Regions from separate parts of the Homo sapiens genome. Here regions 1, 2 and 4 are each linked to region 3. Evidence: fine-mapped expression QTL. A gene starts in region 3. Each other region holds a variant in brackets. All regions are shown on one strand. Distances are from middle to middle.

What was found. PIP is the estimated chance that this variant, and not a neighbour inherited with it, causes the effect.
Region 1: its variant is fine-mapped to the expression of RNF24 in cerebral cortex (GTEx, PIP 0.96).
Region 2: its variant is fine-mapped to the expression of RNF24 in whole blood (TOPMed, PIP above 0.99).
Region 4: its variant is fine-mapped to the expression of RNF24 in whole blood (TOPMed, PIP above 0.99). The same link has a PIP of 0.9 or more in blood mononuclear cells.

Annotation. Positions count from the first base shown.
Region 1 is chr20:4,460,303-4,466,449 of GRCh38, reverse strand. No RefSeq gene overlaps it. Among named protein-coding and RNA genes, the nearest start is that of ADRA1D, 210 kb to the right of the region's middle. The variant A/G (reference allele first, on the strand shown) is at 2,738.
Region 2 is chr20:4,087,191-4,093,337 of GRCh38, reverse strand. No RefSeq gene overlaps it. Among named protein-coding and RNA genes, the nearest start is that of SMOX, 59 kb to the left of the region's middle. The variant T/C (reference allele first, on the strand shown) is at 3,036.
Region 3 is chr20:4,013,097-4,019,243 of GRCh38, reverse strand. It overlaps RNF24 (ring finger protein 24), which reads left to right and starts at 3,686. Exons shown (of 6, transcript NM_001134337.3): 1 at 3,686-3,807. RefSeq lists enhancers at 1,959-2,560, 2,764-3,696 and a silencer at 3,580-4,179.
Region 4 is chr20:4,080,183-4,086,329 of GRCh38, reverse strand. No RefSeq gene overlaps it. Among named protein-coding and RNA genes, the nearest start is that of SMOX, 66 kb to the left of the region's middle. RefSeq lists enhancers at 2,979-3,478, 3,479-3,980, 3,894-4,093 and a cis regulatory region at 2,912-3,609. The variant A/T (reference allele first, on the strand shown) is at 3,377.

The DNA of each region.
Region 1 (6,147 bases), 450 kb before region 3:
GATTGCTCATTGGTCTCAGTACAGCCAGTTGACTGAGTTAGGGCTTTTGAGGAATTGGTGTTGGGAAATTCTAACGCAGAACCCATAGTTGGCCTCTTCAAGCACAGTGTGATAAACGACTTGAATGACATTTTCAAATACTCTTGGAGGCAGCCAAGCATGACATCTTAGCTTGAACATTTTTCACCTTCCTCTCCCAGCAATGCTTGTTTACAAAGATTGATGAGGCTAAAACAAATAATAAAAATTATTATTTGTCTTAATTTAGTTTTTCCCAGAAGAAGACCTTGAGACAAGGTTTCAAGTGCAAGTTGTGAATTTGGAAGGTGCAGAGAACACCAGCATTGAAGTGAGGCAGTGAGACAGGGATGGGAAGGGAGCCAGTAAAGGGTTCATTCTTAGGACAGCTACTACAAAGGGCAACCAGAGCTTCATCTCTAGTGGAGACCTCTGATTGCAAGTGTAGAGCACATGCCTTAGAGTTTTCTCACCCAAGAAGCAGAAGATCTAGGATAGCTGTACAGTAGTTCTGGGCAGACCATGGTTGAGGTCTGCTCCCAGAAGAGTTGATACCAGCCCTTGCAGCTGCCCTACGATGAGTGTGGGTAGAGTGGCCTTCAGGGAATTTAGAGAGAACCCTCACACAGAATAGAGATACTGGCAGTCAAGAGTGGGAAGGGGCTCTGTGAAGTAGTAAGGCCTAAGTGCTATGGACAGGGCCAGTGTCTGCTCCTGGTTCTTCATGCTGTTTGTCCAATGCACACCAATCCCCGTAAAATAACTTCTGGGATTTAAAAAAAAATCCCACTTTCTGGATCCTTGAAGCAAAACAAACAAACAAAACATGTTTGAAAAGCTCAAGCTAAATCATCTCTTCCCTCCTCCTGGAACATCCAGCAACTCAGGGCAATCCAACATGGTCCCCAGGGCCATCTTTTCTTACCTAGCCTGCCTCTCCTGGGGATAATTAACTTCACTGCCTTTGGCATAGCCCATTTTTCAACCAAACAGTTTGAGGGGGAAAAAATTTATTATTTCATGGAGCAAACAGTTACTGAGCAGCTCCTCTGTTCTCCCAGCAGGGCCGTTAAACACAGTAGTTATAGTACTTTGTGTTTTTTTGCCATTCACAAGCAGCTTCCTCCCTCCTGCAAATTCCCATCACAACAAATCTGTGGTCATGCACAGCCACTCCACTACTCTTAGGCCTAAGCCTAACTATGGGTTCTACCCTTAGAATTTCCCAACACTAATTCCTCAAACTTTCATATTTGTCATCATAAAGTATATAAAAATGATGACATGAATGATTGAAACAATATAATTAGTAAACTATAATTAATAACTATTTCAAACTTTGTCTTATGCAGTTATTATTTATCTTATAAAGCATATTGTATTTGCGTTGCAAAATACAGTTTCCTGCTAATTAGCCACAGGATATTAAAAAGTATTGAAAAATGTAGTCAGGCATGAGAAAAATAATAACAAAAATCATAAGTCAGAAAGATGAATATATGCAATCTATGTTCTCAAAGGAAAGTATAACAACTGGAAACAACAACAAAAGATTAAACAAATTTTATGAATACTCTTTTGAATAAATTTCTGATTAATGAGGAAATAAAGGGATTTGAAAACAGCTAATTGAAAAATAATGAGAATCAGAATAATTCACATTTAAGATTATGGAATATGCGTAAAGTTGTTCTCAATAAATTGTAGTATTAAATGCATGTTACATTTTTAAAAGTAAAAGCAAGAGAAAATAATTTCAACTAAAAAGTGAAGAAAAAAGGAACAAAGGAAGCAGAAATAAATATATTAAAATATAAAAACAAAAAGTAAAATTAGCAGCAGGAAAACGCACAATGGCATGAATAGATAGTGAATCTCAGAGAACGTCTTTGAAAAGAATCAGTAAAATGGCCCAGCTGCTGGAAAATCTAATTTTAAAATGCCATAATCAAAATGAAAAAAGGAAAGAAAAAAATGGCTAGAACTTATATAAAAGTTTTTAAAAATTACAGTATAATTAAGTGCTTTTATTTTGAAAATCATTTAAGATGGAAATTGTATTAAGAAATTTAGATGACTAGAATTGACTCAATTGGAATCACATGGTTAAATCACTTAAGGAAGAAATTAAGAAAGTTAAAGAATTATTCTCTCACCCCAAAGAAGGTGATTGTAGGCTGAAACATTATAAAGCAATGGCAATTAAAACTGGTTCTGGGGATGGAATAGACAGATTGGGCCAGCTAGAATGCTTTGGCAGCAAGAAACAGAAAAATCTGCTTGAAATTAATTGAAACATTAAGGAAATATATTACCTTATGTTATCAGGAAGTCCACAGGTTGGTGGCTCCAAGCAGCACATAATCAATGCCTCGAGGATGTCACCAAGAAGCCCAGTTCCTACCAGGTCTCCACTTAGCATCCTGACCGTGCTGGCCCTGGGCATGGTTGCAAAGTAACTGTGGCAGTTTCAGGCATCATATCCAGACATGATAAGATCTGCAGAAAGGAAGAGTCTGCATCTTCCTTGGGGTTCCATTTAAGGGTGAGAGACTTTTGCCCTATGCCAGCAGATATTGCCTCACATCTCAATGGCCAGCAACGGGTCACACATCCATCCCTAAAATCTTTGGCAAGGGAGTGCCTTAACCATGGTTAGATAATTAAAGACATTGGGTATTGAATTATTCAAACCAATACACAGATTGTTAGAATGAAG[A/G]CTCCATGTCCGCTCTTGGTGTGTTTCAGGAGTGTTTTAAACTTTTCCTCATGTAAGTTTACATGATTCTTGTGAAGTTTATATTTAGATATTTATATTTTCTGTTGCTAATAAAAACAAAAGCATCTATGCCACTACATTTTCCAACTCATTGCTGTTGTTATATATGAAAGCTATAGATTCCTACGTATTAATTTTTATAGCCCATTTATTTGCTGCAGTCTCTTTTTGTTTGTAAAGATTTTCAGTCGATTCTTTTAGATTTTCCAGGCCATATTATCCACAAATAGGGAGAATTTAACCTTCTTTTTCCCAGTGTTTATAAATGAAGTATCATGCTTTTGTCCAATAAAAGTGGCAAATACTTCCAGCACAATATTAAATGGAAAAGGTAATAATGAGCATCCTTACTGTGTTCCTAATTCTACTGTTTACAAATTTCTTTTTAAAAAGTGTTTTAAGAATGGGTCAAATGCCTTTTCAGCATCAATATGTTAAAAATTTTCTCCTAAAATCTATTAATATGTTGTATTAGTCTGTTTTCACACTGCTATAAAAAATACCCAAGACTGGGTAATTTATAAAGGAAAGAGGCTTAATTGAGTCACAGTTCCACATGGCTGGGGAGGCCTCAGGAAACTTGCAATCATGGCAGAAGGGGAAGCAAGACAAGTCTTACACGGCAGCAGGAGAGACTAGGGCAAGGGGGAACTTCCAAACACTTTCAAAACATCAGCTCTCATGAGAACTTCCTCACTATCAAGAGAACAGCATGGGGGAAACTGTTGCCATGATTCAATCACCTCCCACCAGGTCCCTCCCTCAATACCTGGGGATTACAAATGGAGATGAGATTTGGGTGGGGACACAAAGTGAAACCATATCATATGCTGACTTGTAATGAATACCTTTCCTAATACTAATCTATCCTGGCATTTCTGAAATGGAAACTTTGTGGTCCTGCTACTAGTCTTTTAATGAGCTGTTTGAATCTAATTGCTGTTGTTATATTTACAACTGTAATATGTATATTTGCAAGTGAGATTAACATGTAGGTTTTTTTGTACAATTTTTGTTACATGTTGGTGTCAACGTTATCCACCTTATATAAAAAATTTTGCAACTTTTTATATGTCCTGGAAAAGTTCAAATAGCATTGTAATAACCTATCCTATGGAAGCTTAGTAATAATTCTTATGTGAAACTATCTGGGCTGATATATATGTTCTATGAGTTGATGGAGGCTTATTCTTTAAATACTTTATTTCTCTAATGAAAACTTGTCCATATAGTTTTGTTTCATGTAATCATTGTGTTTCTTCTGGAATTAATTTTAGTAAATTATATCTTCCAAGAAAATTATTTATTACATCCAAGTTTTAGAATTTCATTCACATTTGCATATTGAAAACCTACTTGTATAGAATTGTACAAATAGCCTTATTTTTTAAAATTATTAAGTTGTTGAGGTTATTTTCTTTTGCCTTTTCTTATTGTTTGTGCTTCCTCCCTTTTGCTTGATTAAATTTACTGCTTGTCAATCTATTTCATTCATTTTTTAAGAGAAATAGATCCTAATTTGTTAATTCTACAATTCTTCTAATGCATTGATTTTTGCTTCCATCACTATAAAATTCTTCCTTCTTCTTTTAGTTTATTTTGTGTTTTCTCCCTATTTTTTAAAGTTAGATACTTGGCCGGGCACGGTGGCTCATGCCTGTAATCCTAGCACTTTGGCAGGCCAAGGCGGGCGGATCATCTGAGTCGGGAGTTTGCGACCAGCCTGACCAACATGGAGAAACCCTGTCTCTACTAAAAATACAAAATAAGCCAGGTGTGGTGGCCCACACCTGTAATCCCAGCTACTAGGGAGGCTGAGGCAGGAGAATCGCTTGAACCTGGGAGGCAGAGGTTGCGGTGAGCCAAGATCGCGCCATTGCACTCCAGCCTGGGCAACAAGAGCGAAACTCCGTCCCAAAATAAATAAATAAATAAAATAAAATAAAATAAAATAAAATAAAGTTAGATACTTAATGCATTGATTTACTTAGTTTTAATTTTGTTGATATAAGTATTTAAGACTAAAATTTTTCTGAGCTCTGCTCTGCTTATGTCTCACAGTTCTGATGTGTATTTTATTTCTCATTGTTTTCTGGAAACAATGAGTAAACATAAATGTACTTGCAAATTATCTGGGTATCTTATAAAATGTAGACGCCAACTAAGACCTGGGGCACCCAGGATTCTGCATTACTAACAAGCTCACAAGAGAAACAGATGCTGCTGTTTACAGACTGCAATTTAAATAGCAAAAATAAGGGTTTTATTTTAATTCCCAGTTTTTTTCTGATGTTATTAATTTCTAGTTTCATTGCAATGTGATGATGTGATTGGAGATCATTGCCTGTATTATACTTGCTTCTTCAAATTCATTGAGCTTTTCTGGTGGCTAATATGGGGTCAGTTATCATCAATGATCATGTGCTTTTGTCAAGAAGATGCACTTATTGTTATTAGGATGCAGAGTTCCACCTATATCTACCTCGTTGCTTATTTTCCTTAGTTAATTTTTGTCCACTTGATCTTTCTTGGACCAAGAATGTTAAATTAAAATCCCCTATTGTTAGTGTGTTCCTGTTTCTTTCTCTTTGTAGCTCCTGTACTTTTGCTTTATCAAACTGTATCATTTGGTACTTAGGTACATAGAAATTCAAAGTATTATGTCTTTTTGATAATTGTCACCTTTTTGGAATGATATACTATGTCCTTGCATAGGAATATTCAACATCTAATGAGTCATTTCCCCTCATTAGTTTATTGGAATCATATTAAATTTATATTAATTTAATTTTATTAATTTAATTATTTTAGAATTAATTTAATATTTAATTAATATGATTCTTTTAAAAATACTAACAGCTTACCGGGTATTTTTTCCCTAGAACTAGACAAACTAGTTCTAAAGTTGATTTGGAAAAATAAGCAAAAGGAGCCAAGAAGATTCTGAAAAGGTCTGGCTCTACCAGGAATTAAAAGTATGGTCAAACTTCAATTAACTACAATGATGTGCTACTGGTTCATGGATAGAAAGATGGATACATGGAATAGAAATATAAGCCTTGAAATGAATCCAGATACACATGGGAATTTAGTATATGATAAAGGTGGCATCTCAAATATATAAAGATTTTTTTTTCCAAAAGTGTATTGGAACAATTGAGGAACCATGTGATGAAAGATAAAGCTGGATCCATATCTCTACTACACGTTCCAAAATAATATAAATGTAAAAAATAAAATAAAATAATTAAGAAGAAAAGATAGGTTATTTTACATTAGAGTAGGAAAGATTGTCTAAAAATAATGCAAAAGTTCACAGTTATAAAATAAAGCTTTGATAAATTGTGTTA
Region 2 (6,147 bases), 74 kb before region 3:
AGCCTTTTTGTTCAATTTAGGCTTTCAATTGATTGGAGGAGGGCTCACATTAGGGAAAGCAATCTGCTTTACTTGGTCTAACAATTTAAGTGTTAATCTCATCCAAAAGCACTCTCGCAGAAATACCCAGAACAATGTTTGATCAAATACCTGGGCACCCCATGGCCCAGTCAAGAAGACACACAAGGCCAGGCGTGGTGGCTCACTCCTGTAATCCCACCACTTTGGGAGGCCGAGGCAGGCAGATCACTTGAGGTCAAGAGTTCGAGACCAGCCTGGCCAACATGGTGAAACCCTGTCTCTACTAAAAGCACAAAAAATTAGCAAGGCAGGGTGGCACATGCCTGTAATCCCAGCTACTCGGGAGGCTGAGGCAGGAGACCAACCACCTTGGCCTCCCAAAGTGCTGGGGTTACAGGCGTGAGCCACCACACCTTGCCCGTGCAGGTCTTTGGGGGCCATGGAACATAATTTGGACTTTACTGTAAGTGCAGTGGGAAATTCTTGAAAGCTTTTTAGTGTCATAGCCAAATGGTGTTGAGTGAGTGAGTTCTGGTTGCAATGTGCAGTGTGGAAGCAGAAAGACCCATAGGAAGAGGCTGGAGTATATACAGGAAAGAAAATAGATAATCAAATACAAGATTGCATAGCTAAAATGAGAAGTCTGGTGGAAGTTTAATAGGCGGCAAGATCAGTGTGATTTGAGATGGTGAAGCTCTCTTGAATGTGTAATTACACTTTAAGTTCACCCATTACCTCCAGGCTACAGGACCTTGTCTGATTCTCTCTACTTGACAAAGACATGATGGCTGGCTCAAGGCCACAGAAATCAGTCACAGCATCAAGCAGCCCCTTCAGACCAGCTTCCTGGCCTAGCCTTCATGATGCCAAGGTTTCCTAAGGAAGACTACCAAACATCCCCCCAGTAAAGCCACCAAACCCAGGGAGACCCCGTCTCTGCGAAAAATTTAAAAATTAGCTGGGCATGGTGGCACGCACCTCTGGTCCCAGCTACTTGGGAGAATCGCTTGAGCCCAGGAGTTTGAGGCTGCAGTGAGCCATGATTGCACCACTGCACTCCAACCTGGGCAACAGGGCAAGACGCTCTCTCAAAAAAAAAAAAAAAAAAAACCATCAAACCCTTTGCTTGGAAAACTACCTTCAATCTCACCAGCTACGAATTATCACCCTGATCCCTTCTCCCTCCTTTCCTAAGTCCCAACGGGCCGCTTTTGGACAAGCAGCCTAGGGAAAAATTCTATGGGAATCACCACCGTTCTCAGCGGGCCCACGAGAGGGCGAAAGAGAGTCAACGGGCCTGGGACATCTTTTCTCTGGCTCCCAAGAGCAGGGAGGAAGTGGAATCCAGGGCAGGTGTGAGGCCGATTCTGGACTTGGGTGGGTGGGTAGGGGCTGAGATAAGGGAGGCCCCGGGAGCCTGGCAGCTGCTTCCCTTGCCCTCGCCTTCACAGCATGGTAGGAGAGGCCGCTGTCACCCCCACTGCTGGGCAGAAATGTATCTAGCCTTGGCTGACCCCACAAGGACACTGGGTCGCGGCACCTCAGATAAGATTCACTTGGTTGCAAGGCAGCAGGGCTTATATGTCAGTCATCCACAGGCTGCAGGCTGTGGGAGTGGGCGTGACTCCCACTGGGCAAAGGGCAATTCCCTAGAGAAGAGAGAAGGCCCCTGTGACCCAACAGGCACAGCAGCCGCAGATGCACCCTATCCTGCAAAGGGGTCTGGGCGAGGCACCCACAGTGTCCATTTCAGTCCCCTATCGGTTTACTGCTGACCCCAGCCAGCCTCTCTCCTCCTCTTTCCCGGGTAAGAACAGACATGGCCCAGGGTTTTCACATTGGCTGGGACAGTCCATGAAGTTCTAAGGGGTCCTGAGGCCCGACCTCCTGCAGCTGGGATCCTCTGTCGGCTCCCCTTCCCAGGCCCAGGGGAATCTTTCTTACACATTTGCCTCCTCTGGTTTCTCCCTGATGACGCAGGGATTCAGCCATGCTCTTCACTTAATGATTCATGTCTTTTCCTTCAGGGGCCCAGACTAACTTTTTCCTCTTTACAGCTTTGCAAAAACAAAGGTCCCATCCCCACCACCTTATCACTTACACCATAAGGGGTTTGTGACTTTTAACTAAAAGAACCTTTATTACAGCAGAAATGCCATGTGCCAGAGAAGATACCCACCCAGCCCCCAGTGGCTTTGGGAACCTGCAAAACACAGTAAAGGTTGAGAACAACTGAATTTCCAGCATCTTTCCTCATCCTGGGAATTCCTAGGAATCCTCCACTGACCGAGTCAGCACAGAAATGAAATGGAAACTGGAGGCTTAGCCAATCAGATGCTTCCACCCAGCTCTTTGAGCCTGTAGTGAGTGATACAAGAAGCCAAGGACAGTGAACTATTCATCCTGGCAGTGGTGGCAGCAGCAGCATCCTGGGGCCTGGCTACATGGTGGTGATGGCCACAGTGTCCCCCAGATGTTCCAGCAGCATGGTTTTCATCGTGGTCTTGGCTATCCAGCTGCTACCTTTGGTGCCTGCGTGATTTCTGGGTCCAGTCTTCAAGATATTCTGTGAGCTAATCAATACCCTTCCATTAGGTTTTTTGTTTTTTTGTGTTTTTTTTTGCCATAATCAGAGCCTGTTTCTTCTGCTTGCAACTGCGAATGGACTAATACAGAGTCTTTGAAGGGTATGGGCAGGGAGAAATGATGGGACCTGGCTTGTACTTTGAAGAAGTCCTATAGGCTGCTATGTGGCCACGATAGTAGAGCACAGCTACAGCAAATGTGAGTAGACCAGGTAGACAAGTTCCTTGGACTGGGGTGGTGGCAATAGGAAAAGTTGAATGGCGTTTTGGGGGGTGAAAATCAAATTGGCTTGGTGAGGTAACGGATGTCGGAGAAGTGGGAGGAAGGACTCAGGATGTCACCCAGGTTTCTGTCTTTCACAAGTGGGTGTTGCGTTAGATTGATTGCAAAAATGGCCGCAATTCTCCACCCCTCCCTTTGCAATATGA[T/C]TTAGTAACATCTCTCATCAAGAAGCAGAACTTTGCCAGGTGCTGTGGCTCACATCTGTAGTCCCAGCTACTCGGGAGGCTGAGCTGCGAGGACTGCTTGAGCCCAGGAGTTCGAGGCTGTAGTGAGCTATGATTACGCCACCGCACTCCAGTCTGGGTGACAGAGCAAGACCCTGTCTCTAAAGCAAACAAACAAAAGAATCAGAACTTTTTCCCAAACTCTTTCAAGTGAGGCTTGGCTTTGAGAGTTGTTTGACCAAAAGAGTTTGGCAGAAGTGACAGTCTGTCAGTTCCAAGTAAAGACCTTATAAGATCTTGCATGTTTTCATTTGTTTTCCTGAAACCCTGCAATCACTATGTGACTAAGCCTAGACTAGCCTGCTGCATGGCCACGCTATACCAGCCAGCTTCCAGCCAACCCAGCATCTGATTGCAAAAGCCTAGAGAAATAATAAATGGTTAATGCATTAAGCCAGTAAGTTCTGGGGTGGTTTGTTATCCAGCAAGGGCAAACTGATATATATATATATATATATATATACACACACACACACACACACACACATATATATACACATATATATACACACATATATATACATATATATACACACATATATATACATATATATACACATATATATACACATATATATACATATATACACATATATACATATATACACACATATATACATATATACACACACATATATATACACATATATATACATATATATACACATATATATACACATATATATACACATATATATATACACACACACACACAAACACACACCTCCCTATATATATAAAACCATCAGATATATATATGTGTGTGTATATATGTATATGTATGTATGTATATAACATATGTCAGGTATAACATATCAGGTATGTGTGTGTATATATATATACACATATATATATATACACACACAGACACACACCATGGTGTGTGTGTATATATGTATATACATATATATATATGTCCATCCACATCCCAACCAAGCCCACCACCCTCTAGACTTTCAAGGGCTCCTGACTACCTGGACTTTCCACTGTTCTCCTTGGCCCATGAAATTGGATGTCCCTGTCCCAAGGCTGTCTGCAGTACACTCGAACTTGCTCTGCCCTTGAACTTGCTCTTGGGCATATCAGCTGCCCCTTAGGCCAGACCCTGGGCTTTCTGTATCTCAGAAATCTGCTTTTATCCCTGGACCCCACATTAGTCCCTGTTCCTGGCCTTTGGGATTTGCCGTGGTTGTGGTTGGGCCCTCCAACTGGGTGAGGGCCCAACTGCTCACTCCCAGGAGACCAGTACCCACATCCCAGCACAGAGCAGGTGAGAGCTCCCACACTCCTTTTTACCCACTCTCACGGCCTTACTGTGTGCCCTTCTGTAGCTTCTGTGACCCATTGATCTTCCTACAACCTCCCTGGCAGGATCTCTTTGCTCCTCTCCATCCCATATTCAATACCGGGTCCCTGTGGAGCGCCAGGCTCTATACTAAGGACCCTGTGTGGGTCCCCCAAGGGCAGAAACCATCTTTCCCCATCAACTCAAAGTCTCCTAGGCATAAAGGCTGGGGGTGGAGGGCTGAGGACTGACCCAGGACCTCTATTTTGCCTCCTGTAAATAAAGATATCTCAAAATACAGTAAGAAGACCAACTAAGTGGGTGAAACTCCACCAACTGACAGATAATTGTCACATCTTAACTATACATCTTTCCTCGGCAGGCAAGACACATCTAGGCCTGGTGAAGACAGAAACGCTAGTCCCCCCCCTTATTTGCAGGGGATACATTCAAGACCCCCAGTGGATGCCTGAAACCGCAGATAGTACCAAACCCTATACATACTATGGATTTTTCTATATGTACATATCCACCATAAAGTATAATGCATAAATTAAGCACAGTTAAGAGGTTAACAATAATAACTGATAATAAAATAGAACAATTATAACAACTGTTCTATTTTATTCTCAGTTATTATTGTTAATAATAATTATGTTGTGATGATGTTAAGCATCACCACTTTTGCATCCAGGGGTCGTTATTAAATGAAGTAAGGGTTACCTGAACATAAGCACTGCGATACCTCAGCAGTTGATCTGACAGCCAAGACAGCTACCAAGTGACTAATGAGCGGGAAGAATATGCAGCATGGACGTGCTGGACAGAGGGATGATTCACTCTACTCAGCATGGCAGGCAATTTAAAATGGGAGTTGCTCATTTTGTTTTTTGGTTTTCTTTTTCTTTTTCTTTTTCTTTTTTTTTTTTTTTTTGAGACTGAGTCTCACTCTGTCACCCAGGCTGGAGTGCAAGGGTGCAATCTTGGCTCACTGCAACCTCTGCCTTCCAGGTTCAAGCGATTCTCCTGCCTCAGCCTCCCAAGTAGCTGGGACTACAGGCACACACCACCATGCCCAGCTAATTTTTGTATTTTAGTAGAGAAGGGGTTTCACAATGTTGGCCAGGCTAGTCTCAAACTCCTGACCTCAAGTGATCTGCCCGTCCCAGCCTACCAAAGTACTGGGATTACAGGTGTGAGCCACCCCATCTGGCCAAAACATGAATTATTTATTTCTGGAATTTTTCCATTCAATATTTTCAATCTGTGATTGACAGCATCTAACTGAAACCGCAGAATGCAAAATTGCCAATAAGGTGGGGGACTATTGTAATTTTCTTTTTCTTTTGTGAACCACTCCCTCCCAGGGCCAAAAAGAGTCAGATCCTCTGCAGCAGGGGTCTCCAGCTCCCGCAGTACTGATCCATGGCCTGTTAGAAACTGGGCCACACAGCAGGATGTGAGCTGCAAGTGAGTGAGCATTACCGCCTGAGCTCCGCCTCCTGTCAGATCAGCAGCAGCATTAGGTTCTCATAGAAGCACGAACCCTACTGCAAACTGCGCATGTGAGGGATCTAGGTTGCACGCTCCTTATGAGAATCTGATTAATGCCTGATGATCTGAAGTCGAACAGTTTCATCCCAAAACCATCCCCTCCCCCCTACCCCGTCTGAGGAAAAATTGTCTTCCTCAAAACCAATCCCTGGTGCCAAAAAGTTTGGGGACCACTGGTCTACAAAGAATGCGCAT
Region 3 (6,147 bases):
GGAGAATTGCTTGAACCTGGGAGATGGAGGTTGCAGTGAGCCGAGATGGCGCCACTGTACTCCAGCCCAGGCAACAAGAGCGAAACTCCATCTCAAAAAAAAAAAAAAAAAAAAAAAAGAGGTATAAGGGAGGAGATGGGAGGGGACTGTGGGGAGGAAGGATAAAGAGAAAGAGGGGCATCCTCCGAAACTCCAAACAGTGAAGTCTTCCCTACCCTACCCCTACCCATCATGTGGAACAAGGAAAATGTTAGCTGCGAAGCCACCACTTCAAGTCCTAGCTGCCTGCTGTTTTGAGGTACCCACCTAAACCCTCCAGAGAAAGAATTGCCCACCCACACTCTCCCATCACTTGCATTTTGCCTAGACCAGTGGGGGCTGGGAGTGGTGGGGGGATGAGTAGACTCATGTGCATCACTAAGCAAAGAGGATCAGGGACTAGCAGGTGAACCTCCAGCCGGAAGCACCAGGAGGACAAAAACTGTGATTTCTTCCTTAAGGGGAACACGGGACAACCCGCTACAGGGGACAGAAGAGCAGGATCCTGCCATATGTTGTAGAAACTGTGAGGCCAGATTCCACCTGTCCAGTCCCAAAGGAAAACTTTCTCCTTGACCCTAAAAACCAGTTGGGCCAGTTGATGACACAGCAAAATTTTAATAAGATGAGTCTCCCTGAAAACAGCAACTGGACACGGCCCCTCCTCCTTCCGTTCATTCTCTCATTCTCTTTCCCACTCACCCCTAATTTTTTCAAGAACAAAAGACATGAAATGAGCCACTCCATCCTCTACCCTACAGCCTGATTGGACTAGTGAATTACTAGCCAAGCTTTCTAAACAAACAAACAAAACAGGTTTCCAAACGCAGGGCAGAGGAAGGAAGCCAAAATAAGGAAGAAGAAAGAAAAGGAGCTCAGCCTTTCCTTCTCCTGTGGAGCCTCCCCAGCCCACCAGGGAACATCACCTCCACCAATAGCCACAGCAGACCCACTATGTGCCAGTCACATATTAGGTCCTGGGAGATACTGATCCTGCTGATGAAGGACTCACATGCTGGTGTGGTAAGAAAATATGCAAATGAGCAGGGACCTTGGAGGGTGCCTAGTGCTGAGAGGGAAGTGGGTACAGGGCACAGGTGGGGATTCTCAAGGAAAGTCTGTCAATAAGTGGGGGCAGAAAAAAATACTTTATCAAAAATGACTTTGTAAATACTTTACTTTTTTTTAGAGCAGTTTTAAGTTTGCCACAAAAGTGAGAGGAATGTGCAGAGTTCCCAACTAGCCCTTCCCCCCTACACATACATAGCCCCCCCATTATAAACATTCTCCCACGGGAGCATTTATTACTATTGTTGGACCTACATTGGCACATCATTATCACCCAAAATCCATGTTTACATTAGAGTTTGCTGCTGGTATTATTCATTCTATGGATTTAGACAAATGTGTCATGACAGGTATCCACCATTATGGTATCATACACAGAGTATTTTCACTGCCCTAAAAAGCATCTGTGGATTTTCAGAGAAAAGAGCAACTTTTGCATGCTAGGTAAGTATTGCTTTCCTAGTAGGGGAACAGCAGGAAACAGCAGTCACCTTGGTGACTACTGAGGTGAAACACCATGGTGCTGTTCTGTAAATGGCTGGAAAATAAGGCTCAAGGAGCCAGATGGGGCAGGGAAAAAGAAAAAGACAGAAACACAGGCAGATTTGAATACCATGAGAATCGATTTGCATGAGAATGGATTGAGACTTCTGCAACAGCCCAGGGGAGAGATGAGGGGGCTGATTTAGAACAGTGAGAGGTTTGAGCAAAGCAAAGTTGAAAAGACCCTCCAGGTAACTGCTATGATTGACAGCAAGGAGGGCAGTGTTCCCCCAGCACAGCCCTGGCACAGGCAGCTCTAGAGGAAGCCTGGGTCTCCCACTCCCTTCCTTTTGCCACAGTCTCCCTAGCACATGCCTCCACCCTTCTCTCACTTTGGGGGACTGTGACCATTGGGTGGCAGGTGACTTCTTGAGAAATTCACTAATGTTTCCCTCTTTACTTCCTCCCTGCCTTGGTGGTTAATGGTTTGCCAAAGCAGAAGGAACATGCCTCTAGGCGCTTGCCATGATGACTTTTGCTTCCCAAAGTTAAGCTACTGAGCTGTTTATGGTTTATGTGATGGGGCCTGAGAGATTAGGAGAAGGAAGGAGAACTTCTGGGGGACACATGGAGACTGAGGAAGAGGGGGCAATCATTTTTGCAAGCTCTGAGCTGCAGCGCACACACAGTCAGCTGTGGAGCTTCACAGCCATTCCCTCTGCAGGCTCCTAGCCTCTCCAGAAACTTCCGTACCCCAGGAGTGGCAGACACAAGGCGATGGGAACAAGAGAGTATCTGCAGAATACACTGCCTGCTAAAGACAAGAGAGGACTCCCCAGATCCTTGCCTTGGTATTGCAGGAAGAGCTCAGCCTCCCAAAATCGGAGGTCAATTTATTGCCTGCCCTGTAGAATGGGAGCCGGAGGTTGAGGAGTGGATGTAAATAAAGGAATGCACTGTTTCTTGCACACACCTCTCTCCACTATCTGGGCAGAGTCTAGGTCTCATCCATCACCAAGGTTCTAGCACTCAGCTGAGAGGCTGCAGCAGGAGGGGCAGATGGAGGAGGGTGCGGTGCATACCATCTCCCCATCAAACCAATGGGCACCACGTGACCATTCTTGTGTCTCTGGGGACTGTCAATCTGCATGCTAGGAAAGGGGTGGCATTCCAATCTTTCATTTTTTTGTGTGTGAGACGGAGTCTTGCTCTGTCACCCAGGCTGGAGTGCAATGGTGCGATCTTGGCTCACTGCAACCTCCGCTCCCCGGGTTCAAGAGATTTTCCTGCCTTAGCCTCCCGAGTAGCTGGGATTACAGGCATGAGCCACCACACCCAGCTAATTTTGTATTTTTAGTAGAGACAGAGTTTCTCTATGTTGGTCAGGCTGGTCTGGAACTCCTGACCTCAGGTGATCCACCCGCCTTGGCCTCCCAAAGTGTTGGGATTACAGGCGTGAGCCACTGCGCCCGGCCCCATGCTTTCACTTTTAAAAATGCTTGTAGGGCACGCAAAAATACTAAACGGTCGATGGAGAAGGTCTGTCTGGAGTAGTTGTTTTTTTTTTTTTTTTTTGAGACAGAGTCTCGCTCTGTCGCCCAGGCTGGTGTGCAGTGGCACGATCTCGGCTCACTGCAAGCTCCGCCTCCCAGGTTCAGGCGATTCTCCTGCCTCAGCCTCCCAAGTAGCTGGGACTACAGGCGCCCGCCACCACACCCGGCTAATTTAATTTTTTGTATTTTTAGTAGAGACGGGGTTTCATCGCGTTAGCCAAGATGGTCTCGATCTCCTGACCTCGTGATCTGCCCGCCTCAGCCTCCCAAAGTGCTGGGATTACAGGCGTGAGCCACCTCGCCCGGCCTGTCTGGCGTAGTTCTAACCAGGAACAGAGCCAGCGGCCAGGGCCGCACCAGGCCTGGCCAGGGAGCGCCGCGCCTGCGCACTGCAGACTCTGAAGCCGCCGAGCCCTCCGCCGAGGTGGGTGGGGAAACTGCCCGGGCATCCGGGTCCCTCACCCCGCCCCCGCTGCATGAATGAGAGGCGCGGCGCCCGCCCCTCCCCCGGCGGGCCCGCCCCTCGCGAGGGGCCGCCGGGCGCAGTCAGCCGCCGCCACCTCCGCCGCGCTCTGTCCGGACGGACGCTCGCCGCCCGCAGCCTGCCGCCCGCCGCAGGGCGCTGACGGTCCCGCACGTCTGCCGCTGCCACCGGCGCGCCCGAGTAAGTGAGCGAGCGAGGGCGGGAGCGCCGCGGCCGCCGCCCCCGGGCTGGGGTTTGGGGGACCGAGCCGCTCCGGGTTCGGGATGCTGAGGAGACCGCGGGCCCGCGCCAGCCTCCCACACACACACACTCTCCCGGCGCCTCGGCCGGCCGGGCGCGGTGTGCAGGGGTGAGGCGGTGTCTCCAGGCTGAGGAGGGACGCGGAGGAGGGTCCGGCGCGGCCCCGGGACTGGAGGGTGAGTCCCTCACAAAGGGCGGAGCGGGGCTGTCACCTGGAGATCACGGAGGGAAGGTGCGTGGGCCCCCGCACGTCCTGCTCGCCCAAGCCCTGGCATCGGGTCCCCGGGCGTGGGAGGCGGCTGGGATGAGCTGGGAGGCTAGGAGGAGGATGGCGAGGACGCTGCCCCCGCGTTGGCGGTGGGCGCGCGCCTTGGGGGGTGCGGCGTGGCAGTGTTTTCCTGGTCCCCGTCCACTCCTCCCCTTTCTTTGTGGCGCTTGTCTCGTGCCCCGTTGTCACAGTGTGCATGGCAGTGGTCGGGGTGGAGACCTCTTCCCTCGGCTTACTCATTAATGAAAGTCACCATCTGTGGGCAGGGGGCGTGTGTGGTTCCACAGGCCGGAGAATTAAGGACCCTCCTTTGTTTCTGGAGACCTAATGATGTGTGTGTGTGTGTGTGTGTGTGTGTGTGTGTGTGTGCGCATTCAAGTGAAAGGGACATCTATGAAATGAGAGAATCAGAGATTGTCAAAAAGGGTATGAGGAAAAGGGGAGGGGATATAACTTCATCACACCTTTACCCAATTCTTTACCTGATGTTATTTCAAACAGTTTTTTCTCACTGTAAAACCAGTGGGTTTTATTCATTGGAAATGTGCATCTAAATTCTCATATATCTGTGTTTCTAGAATACTTTGCCTTTTTGGGCTTAGTTAATGGTAAGATTCTCATGTCTGTCTACATAGGAATACTCCACCGTACAGGACACTGCTTTCTGGGTTTAGTTCATTGATAATTTGTCCGAATGCTCATAAACATGTCTATAGGAATACTCCAATATATCTAGGACACAGTTTTCTCCGCTCCTGAATACAGGCAGATTTTGTTTCTTTCTGCCTCCCTGTGTTAATGAGAAGGTAGTCCAGCAGGTTCTCTCTACCTCCTTGCTTTTTTTTCCCCTTAATGCTTTGGCAGAGGGTTTTATTGCATATTACCCTGGCATGCGCCCTTGCTTTGATGTGAATTTTCCTGTGTTCTGTTGTCTGGTTGTACAGCCCAGCTCAATGGCTCCTCTTACAGGACTACTGGAAAACAGAACACCTTTTTTCATTGTCCTCATCTCCAGAGAGAGAAGGAAGCGCTGTAGGTTCCCACAAACGTTGACTCTGTCAGACTGCCTGCCTGACTTTGTTGTGTTGGTAAAGTTATGAAGAGTTGCAGTTGTTGTAGACCAATTAAAAAGAGGCTATTGGGATAACACCAGCTCTTCCTTGCTATTTTGGTTTTAAAACAAATGATATGAATTTTGCAAGATAGTTGTTAACTCTGGTTGCATGATGATTTTCAGTTTCTTTTTACCCATATACTTTTACAGGGTGTTGGGAAATTAGCCACTCATTTACAAGAAACACACCTCCAAGGTATTTTTATTATGGGTCGGGTGCGGTGGCTCACACCTGTAATCCCAGCACTTTGGGGGGCCGAGGTGGGTGGATCACCAGAGGTCAGAAGTTTGAGACCAGCCTGGCCAACATGGTGAAACCCTGTCTCTACTAAAAAAATACAAAAAATTAGCCGGGCATGGTGGCGAGCGCCTGTAATTCCAGCTACTCGGGAGGCTGAGGCAGGAGAATCGCTTGAACTCCCGGAGGCGGAGGTTGCAGTGAGCCTAGATCGCGCCATTGCATTCCAGCCTGGGCAACAAGAGCGAAACTCCGTCTGAAAAAAAAGCTATTTTTATTATGATCTTTGGATTCAAAATAGCGGTTTTAAAAAATTAAGAGGCGCTTATATTGGATGATATGAATAATTGTATGGGTTCTGTTTTCTTTAAGATTCTCTGTAATATTTTTAAAAATCACATGTATTTTAATTCCTAGTAGTTTTCAGTGGAAAATGAAATGTAAACTAAGCAGTCTTCCACAGCATCTGTTTATGTATATTCCCTCTGTTTAAAACATTTGCTTTTAATTTGAAGGGGAAATTTTCCATGGTCAGTTCAGGATACATTATTCTTAGTAAAATTCTTACCACGTTCAAATTCTTTTTTGTAAGAGTAAAAAAAAATTAATGAAAGTTGATTTTTCAATTGGGGATGTTTTGGTTTTAATGCATGATTTAAA
Region 4 (6,147 bases), 67 kb before region 3:
GAAGCTTTGCTGAGGGGCACAGGGCCGTGGGGGGAGAGAGAGGCAGCCGTGGGGGCGCCCCAGATGTTGCCCCATGCCCTTCCAGGGCCTGCCTGGAACTGAAGACACGAGCCCTTGTGAGAGTCAGAGGCACTCGGTCGGGCGCGGTGGCTCACGCCTGTAATCCCAGCACTTTGGGAGGCCGAGGCGGGCGGATCACGAGGTCAGGAGATCAAAACCATCCTGGTTAACACGGTGAAACCCTGTATCTACTAAAAATACAAAAAAATTAGCCGGGCGTGGTGGCGGGCGCCTGTAGTCCCAGCTACTCGGGAGACTGAGGCAGGAGAATGGCGTGAACCCAGGAGGCGGAGCTTGCAGTGAGCCGAGATCGCGCCACTGCACTCCAGCCTGGGCGACAGAGCGAGACTCCGTCTCAAAAAAAAAAAAAAAAAAAGTCAGAGGCACTCATCTGAGTTCCCACTTCAAATTGGCAGAGGTCAGGGAGGAGTCCCCACGATAGGACCTACAGGCTGGCAAAGAACGTGCAGGTGGAGGAGGCAAGACAGTGAGGTCACACCAAGGGGCCGGAGAGAGGTCATTCCATGACTGATGTTCTTGGAATCCGGAATCTGCCCTGCGTGCACAAAAATGCCCTCGGAGAGCACGGGGCTGGGGAGCTGGCAGAATCTTCACAGATGCTGAAGAGAGGCACAGCGCAGGCCCTCCCCTGAGTCTTCCCTGATGAAAAAAGGAGGCCAAGGGCAAAGCGGAGAGTGCCGGAGAGCCCTCATTCCTGTTCCCTCGCCACCTGGGGCCCGGGAACCAGACGGACCCTGCGTTAGGATGTGCCGTTGCTGCCTGACTTAAGGCTGGAAAAATACCACGCCCAAGGGTTGGCAGGGGGCTGTGGCTGACCACCAGGGGGCAGCTGTGAGCCCCATGGCCAGGCACGCGCATAGCTCTCTTCAGGGAAAGCAAGCCAGGCTTTCACTGACTGAGACCCTGCTTTAAAAATCTCAGCCAGTAGCTGCTCCCCTGAGCCCATAAGGAGTCCTCAGGTTGAGAGGTGTGCGATGTCCTCCAAGAAACCTTTGTCCCAATAGGCAGACCCCTAAATACCCCAACCACGTTTCAGTACCAAAAATGGGATCCTATACTTTAAAAACCTGACCTTGGTGTGACCCCTAACCCTGGCCTCAGACTTCCCCCAAACCCATTGCAATCCTTCATTTATTTAACCAGTATTTATTTAGCATCTACTATATACCAGCAGCCTATTAGACACCTGGGATTCTTCAGTGAACAAATCAGACAAAGACCCCTGCCCTCCTGGGACTTCTATTCTCTGAAAGGAAGGTGCCATTGAACCATCCACAGTTGCCCGTGATTGGCCAGAATGATTTGGGTGGCTCTGAATGAAGCCATCATGCAATTCAGCTTCGGACAGGTGACTCAAGTGGTTCTAAGGAGCCTCGCCTTACAGCTTGAGCATTAGGCCTCCTGACCATCAGACCCAGAGAGAGTGATGAAGACTGAGGACATCTGAGTCTAGGAGAGACTTCAACTTTTTGGCGTGTGACTTCCATTTCTTTCTCTCAAAAGTAGAGGATAGTGCCTTATTCTTTGAAATTTGCAATGTACTGCCTTTCGACTACAGGGCTTTCACAGAGCAGAAATCTGTTGCTTATTTGATCTGAAACTTCAGTGCTCAGAGAAAATATTCACCTCGGTCTCATTGCATCATTCTCTGAAGAAGGGCCTCTGGGTACCAGTGGCCAAAATCTCATCCTCTTATTCCAAAGATTGGTTCCCCTCTCTGTCTTCTCTCTCTGCGTGTTTATGGCACCATTCTTCCCCAGAGACCTCAGCTGGAAATCTCAGCCTCATATCTAATTCCTCTCTCTTTCTTCCCCAGATCAATCCAGACACCCATCAGTTCTACCTTCTAAATGCCTCTTGATCCTGTTCTCTCCTCTCCACCCCATAGCCACTGCACTGGCCAGGCCACCATCTTTGCTCACCCACACAATTGCCATGTCACAGTTGATCCCCAGATTCCTGTTCTGAAGATACTACTGTCAAGCCCCTGTGCATGGTGTCCTTCAGGCTCATTCGCTTCACCTGAGGGCCCAACCAGGCAAGCTCTCTCCCTGCTGCCTCCTGCCATCCCTACTTACCCCTCTGGACCTCTGCTCCTCTCCTGGCACCTGTACTTCCTGCAGCTCCTCTCTAAAATTTACCAAAATACTCTATCTCCACTTTCACCCTCCCAGGAAGCTCTCCCCAACCAGGCCATTCAAGTAATTCCTTCCTCTATAGCATCTTATTCTTCACTATCCAAGCTTACCTGGGGCAAAGTCCTGTGTTCCCGCAAAACTGTGAGCTCCTGAAGTCAGAGTCAGTCTTTGTCTCCTCTTTGGCCTCAACTAGTGCCTGGTCCCCATGAAGGACCTAGAAGATACCTGCTGCATGGCAGATAGAGCTAAAGGCATCAGTGGCATGGTTAAATCAACCTATGACACCTCAACTCTCAGAAATATGGAGTAGATGTGTTTTTTCCTATTCTTTCCAGTAAATATGGCTAAAAACCCTAGATACTGCCTATAAAACAAGCATCTGAAAGCAGAGAGAAGAAGGCAAACCAGCTAGGGACTTTGGGGCCTAGGGAATGACACAGCAATGAGTTCTCTGGGTTTATCTTTTTGGCTCATATATCCCAGACAGTGTGCAAAGAAGCCAGCATTCTGGAAACAACAATGGGAATAGATGCCCCACAAAAGCCCAAGAAAATCCTGCTCTGCTTGCCAAAGGACCAAGATGGAGTGGCCTAGCAAAACAGAAAACTTTTAGACAATGATCGTTCTGTGCCAGCCAAATACCATAGGAAAAAATGTAAGACCCCACCCCCACCCGCACCATCAAAGGCTGAGTGGGGAGCCTCGGCTTCATGGCTAGGCTCAGGCTGGACTTCACGGCTTCAGGCTATCATGAGGTTTCAATCTCCTTCCCCCTGGCCAGGCTAGTGTCAGAAAAAGCTGGGTGGGAAGCCAGGACTTTTATCCCGCTGGGCAGCAATGAGGTCTCCCTTCCCAGGGGTGTCAGTGGAGACCACATGGGAAGCCTGGACTTTCATTCCCAGCTGGTGGTAACGGAGCACCCCTCCTCCTCTCCCCCGCCCTCCTCCTCTCCCCCGCCCTCCTCCTCTCCCCCGCCCCCCTCCTCTCCCCCGCCCCCCTCCTCTCCCCCGCCCCCCTCCTCTCCCCCGCCCCCTCTCCAGTGGTCTCAGAGGAAGCCTGGTGGAGACTCAGGACTTTCGCAACTGCCAAACGGTAACAAGGCTATCCTGCTTCCCCACAGTATCAGTGGAGGTCACATGTGAAGCAGTGACAAGGGA[A/T]CTCTGCCCCTCCCAGCCAGGGTGTTGTCGATGGAGACCTAGTAGGAAGCCTGAACCCTACCCACTGCCCAACAGTGATGAGGCGCTCCTTCCCTGACCCTGACTGTCAACAGAGGCAGAGTGGGGAACCTGGACCTTCACCTCACCTGACAGGAACAAAGTAGCAGCCCCTTTCCCTAGAGCAAGTCAGAGGAGGCCTCTGCTAAATCAGATTTAAAGAAGCTCCAAGGTCTCACAACAGAAACTCAAAATGTTGAGGTTTCCGTTGAAAATGACTCATCAAACCAAGAACCAAGAAAACCTCAAATTGAATTAGGAAAAATAATCAACAGACACCAGTGCCTAGGTGACATGGATATTAGAATTGTCTGACAAGAATTTCAAAGCAGCCATCATGAAAATGCTTCAATGAGCAACTACAAACCCTTGAAAAAAACACACAAAAATAGAAAGTCTCAGCAAAGGAACAGAAAGTCGTGGGTCTCAGCAAAGAAACAGGAGACATAAAAAAGAACCAAATGGAGGCCAGGCACAGTGGCTCATGCCTGTAATCCCAACACTTTGGGAGGCTGAGACGGGTGGATCATTTGAGGTCAGGGGCTCAAGACCAGCCTGGCCAACATGGTGGAAACCCCATCTCTACTAAAAATACAAAAATTAGCCAGGCGTGGGGGTGCCTGCCTCTAATCCCAGGTACTCAAGAGGCTGAGACAGAAGAATCCCTTAAACCCAGGAGGTGGAGCTTGCAGTGAGCCGAGATGTTTGCGCCACTGCACTCCAGCCTGGGCGACAGACCAAGACTCCTTCTCAAAAAAAAAAAAAGAACTAAATGGAAATTTTAGAACCAAAATATACATCAACAAAATTTAAAATTCAATGGATGGATTGAACAGCAAAATAGAGATGACAGCATAAAGAATTAGTGAACTTGAAAATAGAACAATAAGATTACCCAATCCAAGCAACAGAGAGAAAATAGTAGAGAAAAAAATGAACAGAACCCAAGAGACTTGTGAGGCTGTAACAAAAGATCTAACATTTGTGTCACTAGAGACCCAGGTGGAGAGGTGAAAGGATCTACATTTGAAAAAGTATTTGAAGAAATAATGGCTAAAAATGTCCCAAATTTGACAAAAGACATGAACCGACAGATTCAGGAAGCTAAGTGAAACTCAAACAGGATAAACCCCAAGAAGTTCAAATCAAAACATATCTTGGCCAAACTTCTAAAAACTAAAGCCAAAAAAAAAAAAAAAAGTCTTGAAAGCAGAGAGAAATGACGCATTGCCTACAGGAGAAAAATAATTGGAAAGACGTCAGATTTCTTATCAGAAACCCTAAAGTCCAGAAGAGAGTGGCACATTTCTTTTCTAGTGCTGAAAAGAAAAAAAGGAACTCTCAACCCAGAATTCTATATCCAGTAAAAAGATTATTCAAGAATGACGGGAATCCAGATGTTCTCAGATTAGGAGAACCAGGAGAATTTGTTGTCAGCACCTGCCATTTAGGAATGACTAAAAAGAAGTTGTCTAAACAGAAAGGAAATGATGAACAAAGGAATTTTTCTTTTTTCTTTTTTTTTTTTTTTGTTGAGACAGAGTCTCGTTCTGTCACCAGGCTGGAGTGCAGTGGTGCAATCTCAGCTCACTGCAACATCTGCCTCCCAGATTCAAGCGATTCTTCTGTCTCAGCCTCCTGAGTAGCTGGGACTACAGGCACACGCCACCATGCCCGGCTAAATTTTTTGTATTTTTAGTAGAGACGGGATTTCACCATATTGGCAAGGCTGGGCTCGAACTCCTGACCTCATGATCCACCAGCCTCGACCTCCCAAAGTGCTGGGATTACAGGCGTGAGCCACCACACCTGGCTGAATGAAGGATCTTAGAACAACAGTAAAGAAGAAAGAACAATGAAAAGCACAAAAATATGGATAAATACAACAGACTTTCCTTATCCTCTTGAGTTTTCTTTCTTTCTTTCTTCCTTTCTTTTTTTTTTTTTTTTTTAGATGGAGTCTTGCCCTGTCGCCAGGCTGAAGTGCAATGGCGTGATCTTGGCCTCCCGAGTTCGAGCGATTCTCCTGCCTCAGCCTCCCAAGTAGCTGGGACTACAGGCACGCGCCACCAGGCCCAGCTAATTTTTGTATTTTTAGTAGAGTCGGGATTTCACCACGTTGGCCAGCATGGTCTCGATCTCTTGACCTCATGATCCACCTGCCTCGGCCTCCCAAAGTGCTGGGATTACAGGCATGAGCCACCGTGCCAGGCCTCTTCTTTAGATACAGTGATGGGGTCTCACTATATTACCCAGACTGGTCTTGAACTCTTAGGCTCAAGCAGTCCTCCTGCCTCGGCCTCTCAGTGTTGGGATTACAGGCATGAGCCTCTTGATTTTTCTAAATTATGTTTGACAGTTAAAGTAAAAAATGTACTTTGGGATGCCAACGCGGGCGGATCACCTGAGGTCAGGACTTCAAGACCATCCTGGCCAACATGGTGAAACCCCGTCTCTACTAAAATTACAAAAATGAGTTGGGCGTAGTGGTGCACACCTGTAATCCCAGCTACCTGGGAGGCTGAGGCAGGAGAATCACTTGAACCCGGGAGGCAGAGGTTGCAGTGAGCCGAGATCGCACCATTGCTCTCCAGCCTGGGCGACAAGAGTGAGACTTCGTCTCAAAAAAAAAAAAAAAAAGGCCGGGCGTGGTAACTAATGCCTATAATCCCAGCATTTTGGGAGGCCAAGGCAGGCGGACCACGAGGTCGGGA